Regions from separate parts of the Homo sapiens genome. Here region 2 is linked to region 1. The links come from fine-mapping of genetic effects on gene expression. A gene starts in region 1. The other region holds a variant in brackets. All regions are shown on one strand. Distances are between the middles of the regions. Region 1 holds the start of NCMAP (non-compact myelin associated protein). Region 2 overlaps NCMAP (non-compact myelin associated protein).

Region 1 (11,241 bases):
CAGGGCAGGAAGCTTCCTTGGCTTTTCTGCCTGGCACTCTGCCAAGTTCACCTTTAAGTTCCCAGAGAGAAGCAGGCTCAGCAGGAGGTAGACTCTGCTTGGGAGTTTCCCCCAGCTGGGGGTGGGTGTGGGGGTGGGACTGTAGGGGCATTAGTGGAGAAGTCAATGCCTGATCCCTTGCCTGTTTTTATAATTCCTCACTCCAGCATGGCTGTAGCTGCCAATATCTGCACCAAAGTGACAGGCAGTGATTGTTTCAAGACAAAGAGCAGGGGACCTGAAGCAGGTGAGTTTCCCTGAAGGGCAGAATAGTGGAAAGGGTAAGAGTTCAGGCTCCGGGGTCTGTCAAGCATTTGTTCATTCCACATGGAAAGCTGGTATGTAGCGGGCATTGTGTTGGGTGATAGGGAGACAGTGGGGAACCGGGCACAGTCCTCACCCTCAGGGAGGTTACAGTCTGACAACAAACTAACAGACGTGGATCCATGTTGGCACTGCCAGCTGGGCAACTCACTTAGTCTTTCCAAGCCTCAGTTTCTTCATCTGCAAGATGGAGATGATAATAGCACTCATTTATAGGGTTCCTGAGGCTTATCAGGAGACAAGGCTGCAAAGTGATTCGTAGAATGCCTGGCACATTAAAGGCTCTCAAAAATGTTAATTATTCTTGTTATTATTGTGACGAATGACGCTGTTACTGGGAATTAGGTAGGAACTTGGAGCTGCTTAGAAAAAAGATAAATGAATTGCTTTTCATCCTCTGGGCAAACCAGTTACCCTTAGGAGGCAGAACATTCAGAATTTCAAAGAAGGAGGATTGAGTAGGCATGGATCTTAAAAAGTTGAGGTAAAAAGCAGCAAGGCAAAGAAACAAAAAACCAAGTTTCATTTTCCAGCAAGAACTATTAATATCATTAAAGGTGTTCAGATTTTGGATAACTGGTCTCCTTCTCCAGTTCTTTGTCCCTCCCTCCTTTTTCTTTTTTTTTTTTTTTGAGACGAAGTCTCGCTCTTGTCCCCCAGAGTAGAGTGCGGTGGCATGATCTCAGCTCACTGCAACCTCTGCCTCCCAGGTTCAAGCGATTCTCCTCCCTCGGCATCCCAAGTAGCTGGGATTACAGGTGTGTACCACCACACCTGGCTAATTTTTTATTTTAAGTAGAGACAGGGTTTCACTATGTTGGCCAGGCTGGCCTGGAACTCCTGACCTCAGGAGATCTGCCCGCCTCAGTCTCCCAAAGTGCTGGGATTACAGGCATGAGCCACCGCGCCCGGCCCCTCCCTTCCTTCTTTCTTGCTCAAGGCAGTACTGTGAGGTTAGAGCTTCCACAGTGAAGGGCCTGGCTGGAGTTTCATCCCTGTGCTTGTTAGCTGGAGGACCCACGTCTCCATTAGGTGCAGGTGGCATGATGCCCAGATTACTTTTAGGGTCCCACAAAAAATGTTTTTATTTCTTTTAAAATCCAGAGGAAAAAGCGACTTTCAGGTTGAAGAAGATGTTTTGATATACCCATGCAGTCATATAAATATCACTGTAAGTATTTCTTTTTCTTTTTTTGAAACAGACTTTCACTCTTGTCACCCAGGCTGGAGGGCAGTGGTGCGATCTCGGCTCACTGCAACCTCCGCCTCCCCCATTCAAGTGATTCTCCTGCCTCAGCCTTCCAAGTAGCTGAGATTACAGGTGCTCGCCACCGTGCCCAGCTATTTTTTTTTTTTTTTTTTTTGTATTTTTAGTAGAGATGGTGTTTCCCCATGTTGGCCAGGCTGGTCTTGAACTCCTGACCTCAGGTGATCCGCCCTCCTCGGCCTCCCAAAGTGCTGGGATTATAGGCATGAGCCACTGCGCCGGGATGATTTTAAATATTTCTTATGGGGCATGGGTCCCATGAAGGCAAAATCGCCCCAGGCTCAGGGAAGTCAGAATGCATCCCCAAGGGCACCATGGAACAATAATACTCATCTCTGGGGGTGTTAAAGGGCCAGGGCTTGTATAGCATTCTGCACTGTGTGGGCACCTAAGAAGCTCTCCGCAAGCAAGTTAACCATTTGTTTTCCTCAATGAACTGCAAGTTGAAACCTTAGGAAACCCCCATGAGGGTCATGGGATTGGGCACAGCAGCGAGGGGAAAAGTTGCACAACTGCTTTTTTTTTTTTCTATGAGATAGGGTCTTGCTCTGTCACCCAGGCTGGAGTGCAGTGGTGCCATCACAGCTCACGACAGCCTCAACCTCCTGGGCTCATGTGATTCTCCCACCTCAGCCTCCCGAGGAGCTGGGACCACAGGTGCACAACACCACACCTGCTAAAGTTTTTGTTATTTGTAGAGACAGGGTCTCCCTATGTTGGCCAGATTGGTCTCAAACTCCTGGGCTCAAGTGATCCTCCTGCCTTGGCGTGAGCCAACACCCCGGGCCCACATTTGTTTTTTATTACACGACAGACTAAGGAAACACCCCAGGTGGAGGAACAGATGAAAACTTCAAAGCAAGGCCACTGTGTTCCAGGGTGTGCACGAAACCAGACAGGCAGCAAAAAGAGCTCTTTCTGAATTCCCAGTGCAGGTGTCAGCAAGCCCTGAAGAGGTGGGCTGAGTGAATGAACAAATGAATGAACCAATGACGAGTGAATTGTGGGACGAATTTTTAAATCCTGAGGTTGTTTGCCCCAAAAGGTAGCTCCCCAGACACAAGTTTCTTCAGAGGCAAAGGGAAACAAATTTTTTTTTTTTTTTTTTTTTTTTTGAGATGGAGTCTGGCTCTGTCGCCCAGGCTGGAGTGCAGTGGTGCCATCTCGGCTCACTCCAAGCTCCGCTTCCCGGGTTCACGCCATTCTCCTGCCTCAGCCTCCAGAGTAGCTGGGACCACAGGCGCCCGCCACCACGCCCGGCTAATTTTTTGTATTTTTAGTAGAGACAGGGTTTCACCATGTTAGCCAGGATGGTCTTGATCTCCTGACTTCGTGATCCACCTGCCTCGGCCTCCCAAAGTGCTGGGATTACAGGCGTGAGCCACCGCGCCCGGCCACAAATTCTTAATAGATGATTGCAGAGGGTACTATCGTCTCTGGTTAAATTAGGAAACTGAGGCTCAGAGAGGTGATGTGGCTTGAGGCAGAGTACAGGGCTTAACGCCCTGCTCATCTCTGCCTCCTCGGGGCTGTTACTTGGAGCAAAGCCCTCCAAGCCCAGAGGCCCCAAGCAGGTACCAGCCCCGCAAGGGCCCCCACAGTTCAGATGTGTCCAGCCCAGGCAGGAGGCCCTTCGGAGAAGGCCTGAGCCCAGCTAGAGAACAGGCCTCTCTGTCTTAGAGGTTGGCACACCCTCTGTTCCTTCCTTAGACTAAACTGCAGCCACTACCTCGGGGAATTTCAAACCACATGAGAAGGTCCAGCCCCACTAGCCAGCTCCCCCTCTGGCTCCGCCCCCTCAGCTTCACCCACACCCCTGCCCTGCTCAGGACTCACTGCTGGCTCTTTTCTTGGCTCAGCCCCTTTCCTTCTTCCTGCCGCCTCCTGCCCACCTAGGATCTATACTTCTGATTAGGAATTCTTTTCAGTGTAAACAGCAAGAAATCCATCCTGCTAGGTCCCAAAGCAAACAGCGGGACTCCAGTGGCTGAGATGCCAATGACTGCCTCAGGAGACTGGATGGATGGAGATGGGGAAACCGATAGGGGAACTAGAACAAGGCTTGGAGGTTGTCCAGGACAAACAAACCGGCCGCTGCTTCCGGGCTGACTTCAGAGGCCCTTGGACAGCAGCATGCAAAGTGGACATCTTACCACAGGCACTTCTGGCCAGCAACAGGTTTAGCCCAAATTACAGAAGTTCTGTTTTGGATATTTCTCTTCAATATCAAATATATATATCTTTTTAAAAGTCAGGTGAATAGATGTAATTTGGGGTCTTTCTTTTCATCATACATGAGGTTTTTTTTTTAAGAAATTAAAAGAGTTTATTGGGCAACTTAAAATCCACTTTACCTTTCTTTTCTTTTCTTTTTAACCTTTCATCCCAATTTATTGGATGACTGAAAAATAAAGGGAAGTGTTGCTGCATTTACAATTCCTGGAGAACGCCACCGCTTACTGAGTGTGGAAAGCTGTTGGAGTTAGGAGAAATGGTCTTCCCCAACTCTACGTGACCCTGAACATCACGTCCAGATCCTGGTTTGCAAACCCTGAGAGTGACAGTGCGCTCCGCTCCCTGTAGAGATCCTGTCACCTCTAACACACTATGACCCTGTGTCCCAGGAGCAACAGGATGAGGGGGGGTCAGCTTGGACGTCACTTTCTCCTCTGGGAGCCCAGGGAACAGTGACATAGTGTGAGGCCTCCCCTCATGTGTCAATGTCTAGCACTAGATCCTTCTCTGAGAAAAGGCATTGATGATGGCAGGAGAAAGGGTGGAGGTACAAAATGTGAGAGAGGGGATGGGGACAGTGGGGGGACCACACGATGAAACAAGAAGCTCATGGTCAGTGTTGTCGGAATCTCCTCTCTCAAAGCCAAAAGCTCCATCCTCAGCCTGGGTGGATGCATTCCACATAGATTCCTTGAGCCCCTCCTGTGAGCCACACACCATGCTAGGTGGGGACAAAGTGAGAAGCAAGGCAGCCTTGCTCCCTGCTTTTCTAGAGCTTAGGGCAAAACACCGATATTAAACAAGGGTTGTTGGCAATTATGGAAAGTGCTACAAGGAGAAGCTTCGAACTTGGCCCCCTTAGGGGGTCCAGCGCCTCCCAACTGTTCATGTACTCCTCCAGTCTCCACCTGCACTTTAGAACTTTGCTTCTCACATATTCGTGGTCAACCCAGGGAGATGGAAACCCACTGCAGCTGCCTGCCAGGACGTCACAAAACTGAAACTAGCTTTGCTTAGAGTGGCTCTACCTCAAGGACACAGCTCCTTCCTGACTTCAGGCAGGAATGGCCATAGTCCACATGGTGCTACGGAGCCCAGGAACTGGCCCAGGGGATAAGCTGTTGATAGGAAACCACTACACTAGATTCCCACAGAGCCCAGCCAGTTCCTCAAGCCCAGCTCACTATATGCCCAGCTCACCGCACGCGCCGCGGCTGGCTGGCTTGGCACCATGCTGCCTCCCCACAGCTCATCTCGGCCCCAGCCAGCACAGAGCCCAGCAGGGACAAGGTGAAGAAAGCCACAGGCCATGAAGGGGTCATGGGAACCCCCTTCCCATTTCCTCCTCCCCTCCCACCAGGCATTCATGGTCCTTTGGTGTCTCTTGGCTGCCCTTCTGTCCCCTCTCCCCACTTAGAGGACATGAGTAAAGGTATTGGCCTACCTAGAGTTCCTGCCCCATCATCCACTCCCACGGGCTGATGGGACTCAGGATTCCAGGGTATTATGTGCCCTCTTCTATCCCGGTGCTCTGGCTGTGCCTGTCACTTTCTACTACCACCACCAACACACACACGCACACACACGCACACACGTGCACACACCCACATGCACACACATGCACACAAGCGCACACACACACACATGCACACATACACACATGCACCATAAGAGGGGGTGCCTATAATCTGTTGCTCTTGGCTTCTGCTTATAACTGTTCCATCCACCTAGACCACTGTCTCTAGTATCCATACCCACCTCTTAGAACCAGCCATCTGTAAATTCACTATTTGTGCCAAGCATTGTACTTCATATGCATTCATTCATTCATTGGACAAATATGTATTGAGACCTACTGCATGCTGGGCACCGTGCTGGTGCTGGGGATACAAGGGTGAACCAAATAGGCATCATCCCTGCCCCCAAGCAGCTGCTAGCAGACATTAATAGCTCATGTTCATTGAGTGCCTACTATATACCCACCCTGTATTAAACACTTTATGAGTTATCTGATTTAATCTGTCAGAGAAATTGTTTCATTTAAGGAGCACATCAAACTGAAACATAGAGAAAAGTGTGGACTTGCCCGAGACTGTTGGACGGCCTTGGCTGAGGGGTAAAGCAGGGACTCCAAAGCGCTGCCCTAACCACCACCTTTCCTTTCCCTGCCCCACTCAGATGCCACCTCCTCCAAGGGGCCTTCCAGAATCTTCTCCCAGACTCAAGGGCTGCCTTGGTCTCTCTAATCCAGCCTTCATATTTGACACAGCCATCTCCTCCCACAAGGATACCCAGAGGACTGGAGCCGTCTCTGCATCCTTCCTCAGGAGCGCTGCTGGATGAGCGACCCCCGAGCCCCTCCAAACGTGCTGTGGATGGAAACTACGGCCCTGGGCTCCTTCTCTGCCGTGGGTTTTCATCTCGCTGAATCGCAGATCTTCCGGAGGGGCCTCTGCATAGGGCAGACCCATCAAGGCGCCCATTTAACAGATGGGGCGGATAAGGCCCCAAGTGGGTAAAAGTTCCTTTATCTCCAGGCCGGGTCAAGGTCGACTCCCTTTTCTTCCAGCGAGCCTCGGCCCCTCCGCCAGATGCTTGGGTGGGGAGGGGACAAGGAAACGACCTCGTCTCCAAGACCCACTGGAGATGATCAGCCTCCCTCCCACCACCCCGGACCAACGCCCTCCCGCGCAGACCCCAGGCACTTCCTCCAACAGATGTGGGGGTGAGACTGGGGACCCCTCGTCCCCACCCCCGGGCCCTCCTTCGCCCAGCGCGGCCGGCAGGTGGACAGGAAGCCACCGCACCTGGGCCGGACCGCTCCTCGCTCCCCGCAGCCCCGGGCAACCCCGGCGACCAGGCGCCTCCTACCTGCTCTGTCGAGCCCCGCTCGGCCTCCCGCCGGCACCGCCGCGCTCCCAGCCAGGGTCCCCGCCGCCGCCCGGCGCTGCCACCCTGGGATCCCGCCCCCGCCCGGGGCGTCCCGCCCCCGGCCCCGCCCCGTGCAGGTGATCCTGGGGAGGCCGGAGAACGCGCCGGGGGTGCCAGGGTCCCGCACACTGGAGTGGCGGCGCCTCCCCGTGGTGTCCCCGCTCCTGGGTCCTTTTTGGGACTGGCTCTGGCACTCCCGGGCACTCAGTCCAGTAGAGAAGTCCAGCAGGAGGCTTCCAGGTCGGACTCCTCCGCGGGGTAAAGAGAGGGAAAGGGCCTCACAAACACACCCAGGTGAGCTCCAGGCACTTTGAGTAGGGTCTTTAAAGGAGCACGGCGCTAATCTGATTGAAGGTTTTGAGGGGCAGCTGGAGATTCAGACAACCACAGAACGTTAGACCGGGAGGAAACAGGCTTGGCAGCCGGCAAGTGTCAAGAACTCTTGCCGCTGTAGGATCAAAGGCTCCTTCCTCCCCAGGCTGTCGAGATTCCAGCTGTATCCCAGGAGCCCAGGGCGATATCCCTGGCAGGCAGCGGGTACTCAATCAATATTTATAGAAAGCGGGAAGAGATCTCGGAGAGGGGATCTCTTCTCTCAGAAACAGGGAAGCTGAGGCCCAGGAAGCAAAGGTGAGCACAAAGTCTTATAGCAGGTTAGTAACAGTATCAGGAGTGGAGGCTGGTTTCCCGGTTCTATTTTCAATTGATTTCCAGAAAGTGATTGCATCTGGGCCGACTGCCTTGCCGCTCAGTGCCTGTGAGATGCTTTCAAACTCTCCTCAGCTAAGAACTAAGATTTTTATAGGAAGAAAACACGTATTTTTATAGGAAACTCCAAGGTAGTATTTATTTATTTATTTATCTTTGAGACAGGATCTCACTCTGCAGCCCAGGCTGGAGTGTGGTGGCACAATCTCGGCTTACTGCAACCTCTGCCTCCTGGTTCAAGCGATTCTCTTGGCTTAGCCTCCCGAGTAGCTGGGATTACAGGCACATGCCACCACACCCGGCTAATTTTTTTGTGTGTGTATGTATATATATATTTTGGTAGGGACAGGGTTTCACCATGTTGGCCAGGATGGTCTTCAACTCTTGACCTCAAGTGATCCACCAGCCTTGGCCTCTCAAAGTGCTGGATGAGCCACTGCTCCCAACCCATTTTATTTTATGGAGACTGGGTCTTGCTCTCCTGCCCCAGCTGGAGTGCAGTGGCGGGATTTCGGCTCACTGCAGCCTCTAACTCCTGGGCTCTAGCGATCCTCCCACCTTGGCCTCCCAAAGTACTGGAATTACAGGCATGAGCCACCATGCCCAGCTGCAAGGTGGTATTAACAAATATTGATTGAGAGTATAATCCTGTAATTCTACTTTCTCATCAAAGACTTGAGACACTTGAGTATGGTCTTTAAGGAGCATGGTGCTAATCCATGGCTTCAAGAGCTTCCCTGTTGTGGGGGAGGCAGACCTGGTTACAGGGAGAGGCCACAATGTGGGGAGAGGAGTCCAGTGGGAGCCTGCTCTGGCCCTGAGGCCTGAGTTCCACAGTAAATGGCACTGGGGGGGGCCACTTCAGGATGCTTCTGGAAGTTTTTCCAGGTTTGTTTGTGGGGGCAAGAGCCCCCAGTGCATGGTCTCAGGTTCAAATCCTGGCTCCACTGCTTACTATTCGCAAGATGGGAGTAGTTTCTGAGACTGTTTCTTTCTGTAAAATGAAGAGAAGATACTTCAGTATAGTTGCGGTGAGGATTAGAAATGAGATCACACTTGTGAAGTGCCAGGTAAGTGGGAGAATGATTATGCCAAGTGGCAGGAGCTGGGAAGGGGGACTTTGATGTCTTAGGTCCTTCTCTGTGGGGTTTGGTAGTCTTCAGCCTTCTGTTATCTATGGCTCAAGCCCACCTTCTGCTTTGTCCCTTAATCCAGGCTGGCTAAGCCACAGGACACCTGCCCTGTCAGAATGAGTTTGTGCACACCGACAGTAAGGGGTTTGGGAAGGGAGCTCTTCCTTGCACCAGCCCTCCCATAACCAGGGTCAGAGACACCAGCCAAGCCCAGGAGGCAGAAGCATGAAAAGGCTCTTCATCGCGCTGCATATTCACTCATTAAGTGCTACAGAGTGTTCACTATAGGCCAGGCACTTTGCAAGGTGGGGCAGAGTCAGTGGTGGCCCCTCCCTGCCCTGTAGACCTCACCTTCCAGTGGGGCTGGGGTTGAAGGGACAGATGACCCAAGCACAAAAGATGGTAACAAAATAGTGAGACCATCTGAAAAGTTCTAAAGGAAATAATAATATGGTGTCATTGATTATTATGGGTGGGAGGGCAGGGGCTCCCACAGAAACCTATCTGCCAGGGGAGGACAGGGGAGCTGAGACCCAAAGGACAAGCAGGCAGGTGAGGAGGGGCTGGAGCTGGGGCCGGGGAGCACTCTAGAAGGGAGCAGGGTGGGATAGGGTGGGGGAAGCAGCAGGTTGGTTTGTGCAAAGATCCTAAGGCCAGTATAGCAACCAAAGCCAGGGGTGGTTTCAGGGAGAGTGGACAGAATGAGGTCAGAGGCAGGCAGAGATCAGATGCAAGGTCTTACAGGTCAGAGTAAGGATTTTATTCCAAGGACTAGGGAAAACCATGGAGGGTTTCCCGTTGCAATTAAGGAAAGCAACAGGCTGGGGGCGGTGGCACACGCCTGTAATCCCAGAACTTTGGGAGGCTGAGGCAGGAGAATCACTTGAGTCCAGGAGTTCAAGACTAACCTGGGCAACATGGCAAGGTCCCATCTCTACAAAACAAATTTTAAAAATTAGCCGGCCATGGTGGTGCATGGCTATAGTCCCAGCTGCTTGGGAGGCTGAGGTAGGAGGGTCACTTGGGCCTGGGAGGTAGAGACTGCAGTGAGCTGAGATCGCATCACTGCACTCCAGCCTGAGTGACAGAGCTAGACCCTTTCTCCAAAAAAAGAAAAAAAAAAAAAGGAGAAAGGGAAAAAAAAAGATTTTGAAAGCAATTTAATGGAATAAAAAAAAAGTGTGGTGATTTTTCATTTTTAAAATAAAGAGGATGTTTATATATAAATCAGTTTTATTAGTCAATGAAAATTGCTTATACAATTACCCAACATCCCAGCACTTTGGGAGGCCAAGGTGAGAGGATCACCTGAGGTCAGGAGTTCGAGACCAGCCTGACCAACATGGCAAAACCCTGTCTCTACTAAAAATACAAAAAAAAAAAAAAAAAAATAGCTGGGCGTGGTGGCGCACATCTGTGATCCCAGCTACTCGGGAGGCTGAGGCAGAAGAATCACTTGAACCCAGGAGGCAGAGGTTGCAGTGAGCCGAGATCACGTCGCTGCACTCCAGCCTGGGTGACAGAGCGAGACTCTATGTCAAAAAAAAGAAAAAATTACCCAACAAACCACTCCAGTTTCGGATGTTACCCTATGGAGTCTGAGGTGCTGGGGGATTTTAAAATAACAAAAAGCGGCTGCTTCCACGTGGAAAATACCCAGAGACAACCAGTTATCCTTCCTTTTCTTATTAGCAGAAGATGTAACTACAAACTAGCCTTTGAGCGGCTGTGTTTTCATCTCCTGGCCAGGCATGTCCAGTCTTTCATGTCTCCCCTCAAAGCCTTAATCTGCTGTTTATGGCTTTTGAGATGGTTGCTGGGGAAACCAGCCAAATGTCATGTGGGATTAGAATGCAATTTCAGGGGAGGAGACGAAGCACAGAGAATCATGAGTCCAGAGAAACCCAAGTCCACATTGTTTAATCTAGTACAGAGAGAGAGAGGGAGAGAGAGAGGGAGAGGAGGCAAACATACCTAGGCCAATTGATTTTGAAACAATTCCCTGTTTTTCAACTAAGTAGGCAGAGAGTAGAGGGAGCAGCAAAGGCCGCAAGACACAGGCCAAGGTTCTAAATGACCTACAGGGCTCGTAGTGCAGTGTGTCATGTGGCTGATCCCAGATGGACATGTGCTGGGCGGACGTGAAGTGCAGGGGAGGACCAGAGCCCCTTCCCAAGCGCTGCTGTCCTGCATGTGGTCTAATTCCCATCTTACCTCTAGGAGCATCTGGCGATGGAGGATGAGAAGACAAGAGAATGACGGGGGCAGGGTCAGGGGTCTAATCTCCTTGCGAGCCACCTGATCTCCCCGGGCCTCTGTTTTCTCATCTGTGAAATGACGGGTTGGACGGCCTTGTCTCTGAGGCCTCATCCAGTTCCACGGTAAGTCTGATAATCGTGAGTGTGCCTTTAAACAGCCAGCCCAGGTCATTACCTGACAGCTTCCTCATTTTTTATGCTACATTTTTAGGAATGTGCGTTAGCGCAAACCATTTGTTGGTAATTACAAGGGAAAAACTTCTCAGAATGAAAATAGGAAGCTGTAAATTAATTTAAGTCCTTCTGCCATCAGCGGAAGCCACGCCTCCTCACCTTGGCAAGGAAC
Region 2 (11,241 bases), 23 kb before region 1:
TGTGTTCTCCCTGCTCTCTTTGGAGCTTGAATTCCTTGTTCTCTGTCTGGTCAAGTTTTGGGCTGCATTTGGTCAAACTCAGGTATAAACAGGGAGGTGAGGGAGTCAGACCATGAACGCTGGTGTCCCAAGGAGGGGATCTGAGCAGGGATTCACCAGGACCTCTGAAGGACCTGATCTTCCTCTCCATCTCCACTGAGAGCAGAGACAGAAGAAATAGTGAAATCTCCCCCAAAGAGAAAAAAGTCCTGATGGGACCGGTGGGACACAGGGGCTGTGGCTGGGCAGGGGAAGAGCAAGCTGTGGATTCATAACCTGAGACTCGGAAGACCAGGATTTCCCTTGTCACTCATTTGCTACCTGATCCTGGAAAGTCCTCTCCCTTCCCTGGACCTTGGTTTTCCTGCCTGTAAAATAGCCCAGTTTGGAGATCATCTCTAAGGGCTTTTCCAACCAGTGATTCTGTTACATGGAACTGTTCATAGCTTCACAAGAACCAGTGTCTTCCAAAAGCTTATTCTTCTTTGTAGATATGGACTCAGGGGATGTGAGGAGAGGGAAGTCAGCGTGAGCACATCACTCTGGAAAGCAGCGATCCTTCCTAGAAGGCACTAGAGACTGGAACAAACCGAGGCAGATTCCATGAAGGGGCTTTGATTTGGCAACAGCAGTGCACAAGAAAGGAAACCCGGGAATGAACTTCCAAGCACTCTGTAGGGTACATAGTCACCCGAGCCGCCTGAATCCTTCATGGCCATTTCCTTCACCCTCTATTCCTCTTGGATCCCTTATCATAAGCTCCCCACCCCGTCTGCCCTGTCTGTTCATGGCTCTGTGTATCACAGCTCCCAAAGTTGGGGTAGGAATTCTGCCGTGTGCTCCCCTGAACTGGAGGCCATACACAATTACATACTGAACATGTGTTCCTTGTAGTTGGTTCCCAGAAATAAGGGAGCACATTTTCTGCTCCATTTACCCATCTATTCTTTCATCCTGCTATCCACTCATGCCCCCACCCACCCACCCGCCCACCCACTCACTGGGCACACAGTCCTTCCACCCGTTCTTCTGTCCATCTGTCCTCCCATCCATTCAATCAATGCCCACCCTGTGCATAGGACTGAGAAGACGCAAAGAGGGCCGTGGGTCTGTTTTAAACCAAAGAACAATACATAAATAAATAAAATAAAAACCAAAAAACCAGAGGGGCCAAGGGGATTATGTCCTGAGGAACTCAGACCGAAAGAATGAGAAAAGGAATTGTTTCCTTTCAGAATCTTTTCTTCAATCACATGTACTGGGCATCAACCCCACCCCACCGCCCACCCCATGCCTAGCCCAGCACTGACCACAGAAAGGTGCCTGATCAATATCATACTGCAGTCCTATGGCAAAAGCCGCAGCCTGTGGCTCCAGAAGTCTGGGTTTCAGGCCCACCACACACAGACTTCAGGGGAAGTCTTACTTCCCCACCCTGTCAAACGGTGGCTCAGATGTCCTTTGCTCTGATTTTTGTGACCCACATTGTAAGAAAAGGGGACTCCAGGAGCTTCTAACCCAAGACCTGCAGATATGATAAGCTGAGTGTGCTAAGAGTTATAAATAGAAACCCCAGCTGAAAGTGGTCACAAGGCTTACTTTGCTGGTGCCAAAAGGGTGGCACACACAGTGCCAGAAGTCGGTGGGAGGAAGAGACCCGTGGACATTGTGGTGGAGATTGACTGAGAGCTAGAATGTGACCTGTGGCTTCCGTCTACCTCTCAGTCTCTGGGCTCAAGCCAAGGACCCAACTCTTGAGAGTCCTCGACCTCCATAGGAGCTCCCATGTAAATCTCCAGGTGTCCCGCTGTCCCTGTGGGGCGGGGGGAGGGCACAGGGTTAATGGGTTTATGCCCCTCAGTGAATATGTCAGAGGATAATAATGCCACCTCGATATTCTAGGCCAGGAGGGAAGGAAGCCCACACTCAAGCAGACCCTATGCAAGTGCCAGGCACTGTGCTTTCACATGCTTCCCCATTCAATCCACACAGCGAGGCAGGTCTTTTCATCTCCACTGTGCTGATAGGAAACGGAGGCTCAGAGAGGTTAAGGGACTTGCCCAAAATCTAACAGCAGGTCAGTGGAGGAGCTGAGTCTCAAACTCAGATCTCCTACTCCAAACCGTCCTCGGCAATCCTGGTCCCCGGGAGGTAAGCAGTATTCCTGGGGACACTCTGATGGTCAGTGACCCTGCTAGGGAAGGATTCTGCTCACCTGCTCACTTTTTTTTTTTTTTTTTTTTTCTGAGACGGAGTCTTGCTCTGTCACCCAGTCTGGAGTCCAGTGGCGTGATCTCAGCTCACTGCAACCTCCACCTCCCGGGTTCAAGCAATTCTCCTGCCTCAGCCTCCTGAGTAGCTAGGATTACAGATGTGCGCCACCACACCTAGCTAATTTTTTGTATTTTTAGTAGAGATGGGGTTTCACCCATGTTGGCCAGGCTGGTCTCGAACTCCTGACCTCAGGTGATCCGCCCGCCTTGGTCTCCCAAAGTGCTGGGATTACAGGCATGAGCCACCGTGCCTGGCAACTCTCTGCTCACTTTTCTTTCTACCTGTTGATATTTTGAGCCCAAGAGGTACAGCCAGGCCTCAGAGTATGGCAGAGTTTCTCATCCTTGGTACTACTGACATTCAGGCCAGGTAATTCTTTGGTGTGAGGGGCTGTCCTGTGCATTATAGGATATTCAGCACCATCGCAGCATCCTTGGCCTCTCTGCTCACTAGATGCCAGTAGCATCCCACCAGTTAGAACAACCAAAAATGTTACAGGACATTTCCAAATGTCCTTGGGAGACAAAATTTTCTCTGCTTGAGAATCACTGGAGTAGAGCTATTTGGCCTGCCTCTTAACAGTTTCCTATTCTCCCTATCCAAGAAGAACTAGATAAGAAGGAAAATGTCCAGTCTGTTTTCATACCTGTGGATAAACAACCAATAACCATGATGATGACGACGATGGCGATGACCAAAAGCACAATTACTGCCATTGATCAAGTGTCTTTTACGTGCCAGTTACCATGCCAAGTACTTTGTATATGTTTTCTCCATATATTATTCCTATTTTACAGACATAGGAGCTGAGGCTCAGAGAAGTTAGGAAACTTGCCTGAGGCATCTGTGCTGATACATGGCAAAGCTAGGATCTATACGTTTCCTATTGCTGCTCTAACAAATTATTGCAAATTTAGTGGCTTAAAACAACACACATTAATCTTCTTTCAGTTTAAGAGGTCAGAATTCTAAAGTTGGCCTTAGTGGGCTAAAATCAAAGTGTTAGCAGGGCTGTGTTCCTTCTGGAGGCTCTAGGGGAGAATTCATTTCTGGGCCTTTTCTTGCAAGCTGCCTGCATTCCTTGGCTCGTGGTTTCTTCCTCCATCTTCAGACCAGCAGCGTAGCATCGTCTTACCTCGCTCTCTCTGATCTCTGCTTCCATCATCACATCTCTTCCTCTCTCTGTGACCCTCCTGCCTCTCCCTTATAAAGAACCTTACGATGACATTGGGCCCACTCAGCTAATCCAGGATAATCTCCCCACCTCAAAGTCATGAACTTAATTACATCTGCAAAGTTCCTTTTGCTGTGCAAACTAACATATTCTGAGGTTTGGGGGATTAGGATGAGGATGTTTTTGGGAGGCCATTATTCAGCTTCCTACATAGGAGTTGGGCTCTTATCTGTCTGATCCCAAGGTGTGCACTCTGAATCCACTCCTGCTTCATCTACACTGCCTTTACACGCAGACACACAGGCCAAGCACCACGGGAGGCACTGAGGTGGATCCGATGTGTGCAGGGGGTGGTCGGCACGAGCAACGAATCAGGAGGTTGCGCATGAGAAGGGCTGTGAGAGACGGACAGAGAAAGAGTCCTGGAGCCGCTAGGCCAGCTGGGGTAGGGGAATAGGGAGTGGGCTCAAGAGGCAACTGGGCAGGCCTGATTCCTTCCCTGCTGAGCAAGCTGATTTCATGTAAGTCTTAGCACCAACTTACCTCTAACTTCACTTCAAAGGTATCCATAGTTCATCCTGTCCTGAAGGACCGGTCCAGCCCAGCCCCTGCCAGCCAGAATTCTATCCCATCTGTGGGATTTATTTGCCTAGTTAACTCATAACCAATCTCAAATCTTCCTTTCCAGAGTTCCTCCCTGCCAAGGGCTTAGAAGGTCTTTGGTCTTGTAAGGACTTTAGTCTTGTAAATGTCTACTAAAGTAGACTGTCTGCTTTAGGCCCCTCTCTGGCCAGTTCTGATTTGCAAGGATGTCTTTCAGCTGTCTGGCCCCTCCATGAGCCTCATCAATCCCTTTACAGACTAGAGGAAGTGCGCTGGGTTGGTTAGCTGGGCTCTCTTTCCCAGACAGGCAGAGCCTTGGACTTCTCCCAGCGACTCTCAGTCCGTGCAGTAACTTAGGGTGGTTTCTCTAGGCTACTGAACACAATGAATTTCCTGCCTGCAGGGAACTTACAGGTAAGAAGGATGAATTCCGGTTGGCCTTATCTTGACATAAACAAAGTTTGGGATACATCTTTTAAACAAAAGAAAGCAGGGGCCGGTCACAGTGGCTCATGCCTGTAATCCCAGCATTTTGGGAGGCCAAGGCAGGTGGATTACTTGAGGCCAGGAGTTCGAGACCAGCCTGGTCAATATGGTGAAACCCCATCTCTACTAAAAATACAAAAATTAGCCAGTCGTGGTGGCGGGTGCCTGTAATTTCAGCTGTTTGGGAGGCTGAGGCAGGAGAATCGCTTGAACCTGGGAAGTGGAGGTTGCAGTGAGCCAAAATAGCACCACTGCTCTCCAGCCTGGCATCGCAGCGAGACCTCGTCTCAAAAAAAAAAAAAGCAGAAAGGACTTCTGGCTGGTTCAGCAAACTAGATGGAGCACGACTATTCATCTCTGCTTCATCCTGAA[C/G]CCCCTGGCACATGACAGTGAAGGAATCAAGAATCAAGAGGCGTCAACTCTCAAGGCCAAAGGGTACAGAAGAGAAAACAACCACACTGGAGAGACGCCAATCCAGGTTTGAAAGCCGGAAAAGCCGACGGCTGAGTATGACTTAACAGCCTGGAAAAGGCAAAGGCCTAAACCTACAGACTAGGAAACCAATTAAAGCTGATTGCACTGAAGAAGCCCCCCAGACTCAGGAGTGAGTGGTGACAGAGATCACCAAACGTCAGGGTGCCAGGTGGGGCTAAACAGAGGAAGACTGCCTGGGCGCAGTGGCTCACGCCTGTCATTCCAGCACTTTGGGAGGCTGAGACGGGCGGATCACCTGAGGTCAGGGGTTTGAGACCAGGCTGGAACTTGACAAAACATGGTGAAACCCTGTCTCTACTAAAAATACAAAAATTAGCCAGGTGTGGTGGTGCATGCCTGTAGTCCCAGCTACTCAGGAGGCTGAGGCAGGAGAATCGCTTGAACCTGTGAGGCGGAGGTTGCAGTGAGCTGAGATCGCACCACTGCACTCCAGCTTGGTGACAGAGCAAGACTCCATCCCCCCACCCAAAGAAAGAGGAAGACAAAAGTTAAGGCGCAGCTCCACTCTGCCCCCCTCCACCCCTTCCCTCCGTCCTCACCACTGTGGGCCTCCTCCACCCTGCAGAACAGAGTGAGTTCTGCCCCCGTCTGCAGAGGCAGCCAGGAGGAGGTAACCCTGCACTGCCTGACATGATAGCCACATGTAGCCATGGCAAGTTAAAGAAAAATTAATTACACTTAAATACAATTAAGAATGTAGTGTCTCCGTTGCATTAGCCACATTTCAGCTGCCCAGTACCCGCCGTGGCTGGTGGCTCCCGCATTGGACAGCACAGGATGGTGTCAAGTCATTTTGGGCAGTGCTGCCGCAGGCTGTGGCCCTCACAGTGTGGTCCATGGATCAGCAGCACCGGCAGCTCTGGCGCTTTGTTGGGAATGCAGAATCTCAGCTCCACTCAGGCCTGCTAGCCAGAACCTACCCCTCGGCCAGACCCCAGGAGATTCATAGGCACATTTGTCTGGGAAGCTCAGCTCTGCCAAAGGCTAATCTCTGGCTGAAAATGGGAATGTCAAAGCCTAGGCTCTGGGAAACAGACCAGCCAAAGGGAATAGACCTACAGATACTGATTGACTAGAGAATCTTCTAATACAATGGCCAGGTTCTGTCCAGTCGGCCTATGGAGAGGCTGCTAGTTGACAAGCTCTGCCCACCTCACCTAGAGTTTTGAACGGATTTTTGTTTCCTTATTTATTTATTTTTGAAACAAGGTCTCACCCTGTTGCTCAGGCTGGAGTGCAGTGGTGCAAATCATAGCTCACTGCAGCCTTGAATTCCTGGACCTAAGTGCAGCCTCCTGAGCAGCTGGGACTACAGGTGTGCACCACCATGTCTGGCTAACTTTTTTAATTTTTAGTTTTGTAGAGATGGGTCTTGCTATGTTGCACAGGCTAGTCTTGAACTCCTAGACTCAAGTGATCCTCTGGCCTCAGCCTCCCAAATTGCTAGGATCACAGACATGAGCCACCACCCCCAGCCTATGTCTTACTCTTAAATAGGAACAGATAGCCAAGGAGAGGAGAAAAGACCTTTGAGAGGAGAAAAGCCCCAAGCATGACAGACAGCAAACAAAACAATGAACAGATGGAGGCATTTAAGGCAAGTAGAGACAATGCACAGAGAAGAAGAAAACATTGATATATTCAGACAGCTAAGATATTGCATCTATAAAACAAGAACAGGATGCTATGAGAAAGGACACTTTTGGGCATGAAGTCTTTAAAAAAAAAAAAACCCCCACCCTACCCCATGCACCTTTTCCCAGGAAGCCCCTGGAGGATGCACCCACTAAAGTGAGCGAGGGGTGAAGCAAGAGAAGGGCAGGGATTCCAGGGACCAGGGGCTCCAGCCTCCAGTAGGAAGGAGCAAGAAGATGCCGAGGTCCGCGCTGCCGGGCACAGTCTGCGGGTAACCAGCCTGACTGGGGTGGGGGAGGTTCTGTCAGCCAAAGAAAAAATGAAACCTGTAGATTTTCTGATGTGTTTGTCTAGATGGAAAGGAGATCTACTCTTCTCTTCTGTTGGAGAGTTTGCCGGATGAGTTTATGATAGAAAACAAAGCTCTCAGTCAGGTGTAGTGGCTCTTGTCTGTAATCCCAGCACTTTGGGAGGCTGGGGCAGGAGGATTGCTTGAGGCCAGGAGCTTGAGGCCAGCTTGAACGGTATAGTGGGACCCAATCTCTACAAGAAATAAAAATAAAAATTTGCTGGGCATGGTAGCATGTGCCTGTAGTCCCAGCTATTTAGGAGGCTGATGTGGGAGGATCACTTGAGCCCAGGACGTTGAGGCTGCAGTGAGCTGTGATTGTACCACTGCACTCCAGCCTGGGAGACAGAGCAAGAAACCGTCTCAAAAAAAAAAAAAAAAAAAAGAAAGAAAGAAAAAGAAAACTAAGCTCCCTCCCCCAACAGGCTTAGGGATTAAAACTCCTCCTTTCTATTCCAGCTACCCTCCCTCCCACCCCACTCCCAATTTCTCTTCACCACACCACACACCCTCTGTGGAGGCTCTAGGAAGCAACTCCGTGTCCCAGGATCCTGGAGACCCCAGTTGGAAAACTCCTGTGTCCATTGCCCTCTCTTCTACAAATGGGGAGACTGAGGGCCAGCAAAGCCCCCGGGAGCACATAGACAGAGGAAGGTTCATTGGTAGTTTATTTGGTACAATTTTTTTTTTTTTTTTTTTTGAGACAGTGTCCCACAGGCTGGAGTGCAATGGCATGATCTTGGCTCACTGCAACCTCTGCCTCCCAGGTTCTCGTGCCTCAGCCTCCTGAGTAGCTGGGATTACAGGCACATGCCACCATGCCTGGCTAATACTTTTGTATTTTTAGTACAAACAGGGTCTCACTATGTTGCCCAGGCTGGTCTCCAGCTCCTGGCCTCAAGTGATCCACCCGCCTCAGCCTCCCAAAGTGCTGGGATTACAGGCGTGAGCCATTGTGCCTGGCCTATTTGGTACATTTTTTAGACCTCTTTTCTAATTCATTCAAAACAAAATGCGCAACAGCAGCAGCAAGAACCAAACCACCCCTAAAGGAGCCATGGCCGGGAGGCGACTTGTAAGACCCCCGACCCCCGGCCCATGCATCTCTCCTTTAAGCTTTCCTCGCAACCACCCTGCTGTCGTAAGGCACTAAGTCTCCCAAAAGCTCGAACTGAGGTTTCCGAGTCACTTCATAGTCACCTACAAAAAGCAAGACTATGTAGATGTAGTTAATATCTATGCCATGAACAGGGCAACTGAAAACTTCTGAGAAAAAAAATTGGGGATGGGAGTGCAGGAAAAAATTCAACTCCAAATGAGTGCCAGCAATCTCTTTGGAACCAAGTGTGTTGACTTCCAGAACCAAGGCCAGGCCGGGCATGGTGGTTCAAGCCTGTAATCCCTGCACTTTGGGAGGCCGAAGTGGGAGGATCACTTGAGGCCAGGAGCTGGAGGCCAGCCTGGGCAACGTAGTGAGAACCCATCTCTACAAACGAAAAACAAACAAAAAAACCAAAAAAAAAAAAAAAAAAAAAAAAAAAAAACAAGGCCAGTGCCTTCTTAGAAACTCCAAAAATCTGAATTTATCCCTAATGGATCTTTCAGTGGTCTCGCTTTTGTTTCTCTGTCTCTTCCTCTGCCTTATCCAAGGGCTTGGCTAACCACAAAGTGTTTGTTATTAATGAGTTAAGGATGACAATTCTCTGGGAGTATCTGCATTTTAATATGAAATTCTAGGAAATCTAGTGCTCTATAATTTTAGCATGTGACATCCTTTTTATTTTTTATTTTTATTTTTATTTTTTTTGAGACGGAGTCTCACTCTGTCGCCCAGGCCTGGAGTGCAGTGGCGCAATCTTGGCTCACTGGAACCTCTACCTCCTGGATTCATGTGATGCTTCTTCCTCAGCCTCACGAGGAGCTGGGATCACAGGCATGCACCACCACGCCCAGCTAATTTTTTTGTGTGTGTGTGCTTTTAGTAGAGACAGGATTTCGTCATGTTAGCCAGGCTGGTCTTGAACTCCTGACCTCAGGTGATCCACCTGCCTCAGCCTCCCAAAGTGCTGGGATTACAGGTGTGAGCCACTGTGTCCTGTGTAACATCCTTTCTTTGAGTCCCAAGGTCTTGGTCTATGGGGCTCACTACCTCACCTACTTAACACGGCCATCTTGAAAACTCCAACAGAGAGGCCTGAGATGGGGGGCAAGAACCCTGGGCTGGAGTTAGGAATCCTGGGTTCTAGTCTCACCCCTGTTACTTACTTTCTGTGTGACCTGGGGCAGGCCACTTGTTCTGTCTGGACTGCAGTTTGCCCTCCTGCAAACTGAACAGCTGGGGACCAGGGACCTCCCTCTCTGGCCCCTTCCTCCTTGTGACTCTTCCAGCCTCTCACTTGGTTCAGGACACCCTCCCCGAGGCTTGTTTGCCTCCACACCCTCCATTCCAGAAGGAACACCCCTCCCCTTTCCTGCCAAGCCTGGGCCTGGCAGCCGCTGGACTCCAGAGAGGACAGGAGTTGGGGAAACAATCCCAGCCGTTCAAGCTGCCCACGGTGTGAGCTGGCCAGTGGCCAGTCACAATAGGCCCAAAGATACAGAGGGGCGTTTGTCTGGGGGACCTGCGGTGTCATTTAAACCTACACTCTCGTCTTGGCCTGCCGCCTGTCTTTTCTTCCCACCCTCTCAAGCAGCAGTGCCAGCCCCCAGCTTTGTCAGGAGGTGGGATGTGGATGCCGCACAGACCTAAGTGGCCTTTCTGTGGCTGGGAAACTGGACCAAGAAAGGCAGGTCGGGGGACAGGCAGGGGAGCCATCTGTGCAGGGTGGCAGTGGTGAGGGTGGAGGATGGGGACAGCGAGGGAGGGCAGGAGAAGCTCTGGACGGGGCAATGCGGCTGTGCAGAGAGGATCAGGATGAGGGAGCTAGTTCTGACTCCTTCACTAACTAGCCAAGTTACTGTGGGCAAGGCGCTTTCTTCTCCTCTCCAGGACTTAGTTTCCTCATTTTTTTTTTTTTTTTTTTTTTTTTTGAGAGTGCAATGGTGCGATCTCGGCTCATTGCAACCTCCGCCTCCTGGGTTCAAGCAATTCTCCTGCCTTAGCCTCCCAAGTAGCTGGAATTACAGGCACATGCCACCACGCCCGGCTAATTTTGTATTTTTAGCAGAGACGGGGTTTCACCATGCTGGTCAGGCTGGTCTCAAACTCCTGACCTCAGGTGATCCAGCCGCCTCGGCCTCTCAAAGTACTGGGATTACAGGCATGAGCCACCACGCCCGGGCAGTTTTCTCAGTTTTAAAACGGGGCAATTGCTCCTAATCTGTGAGGACTGGGTTAAATACAGTGATGAGCTTGCAAATGCCAAGTGTGGCTTGGCGAAGACAAGGGTTTGGGCTCAGATGGACCTAGGTTCAGATTCTGCCTCTGTCACCTTTAAAATCACTGTTGTAGACAAATTATTCACCCTCCAGGAGCCTCATTTCCTCATCTGGATTGTAAGGATCAAATAAGAGCTGACAGAAAGCACCCTGCCCAATAAACCTGTCTGAACGAATGAAGACTCAGTCGGGTGCATTATGACTTCTGTGGGGCTCTCCCAGCGTAATACATTTTCGTGGGCTCTAAAAATTTTATTTTTTTTCCAACCCGAGGGAAAAAAACTGAAACTTTTTTGCTGCTCTAAAAGTTCTTTCCCCTGCTTGATTTTAAAGAAATTAAAACATCTTTTTTTATCTGAGACAAAGTCTCACTCTGTCGCCCAGGCTGGAGTGCAGTGGCACGATCTCGGGTCACTGCAACCTCCGCCTCCCAGAAATTAAAACATCTTAATGGGCCCTTAAAAGTATTATGGGCCTTGGCCAGGTGTGGTGGCTTATGCTTGTAATCCCAGCACTTTGGGAGGCCAAGGCTGGCGGATCACCTGAGGTCAGGAGTTCAAGACCAGCCTGGCCAACATGTTGAAACCGCATCTCTACAAACAAAAATTAGCCAGGCATGATGGTGGTGCCTGTAATCCCAGCTACTTGGGAGGCTGAGGCGGGAGAATTGCTTGAACCCGGGAGGCAGTGGGTGCAGTGAGCCGAGATCATGCCATTGCACTCCAGACTGGGCGACAGTGTGAGACTCCGTCTCAAAAAAAAAAAAAAAAAAAGTATTGCGGGCCTTGTCTACTGTGCCTCGTGCTCC

The links.
Region 2: its variant is fine-mapped to the expression of NCMAP in tibial nerve (GTEx, PIP 0.96).

The regions. Positions count from the first base shown.
Region 1 is chr1:24,551,665-24,562,905 of GRCh38, reverse strand. NCMAP (non-compact myelin associated protein) reads right to left here and starts at 6,819. Exons shown (of 4, transcript NM_001010980.5): 1 at 6,737-6,819. NCMAP-DT (NCMAP divergent transcript) reads left to right here and starts at 6,882. Exons shown (of 3, transcript NR_109781.1): 1 at 6,882-7,090; 2 at 10,858-11,018.
Region 2 is chr1:24,574,760-24,586,000 of GRCh38, reverse strand. All of the region lies in intron 1 of NCMAP (non-compact myelin associated protein), which reads right to left. Among named protein-coding and RNA genes, the nearest start is that of NCMAP, 24 kb to the right of the region's middle. The variant C/G (reference allele first, on the strand shown) is at 4,949.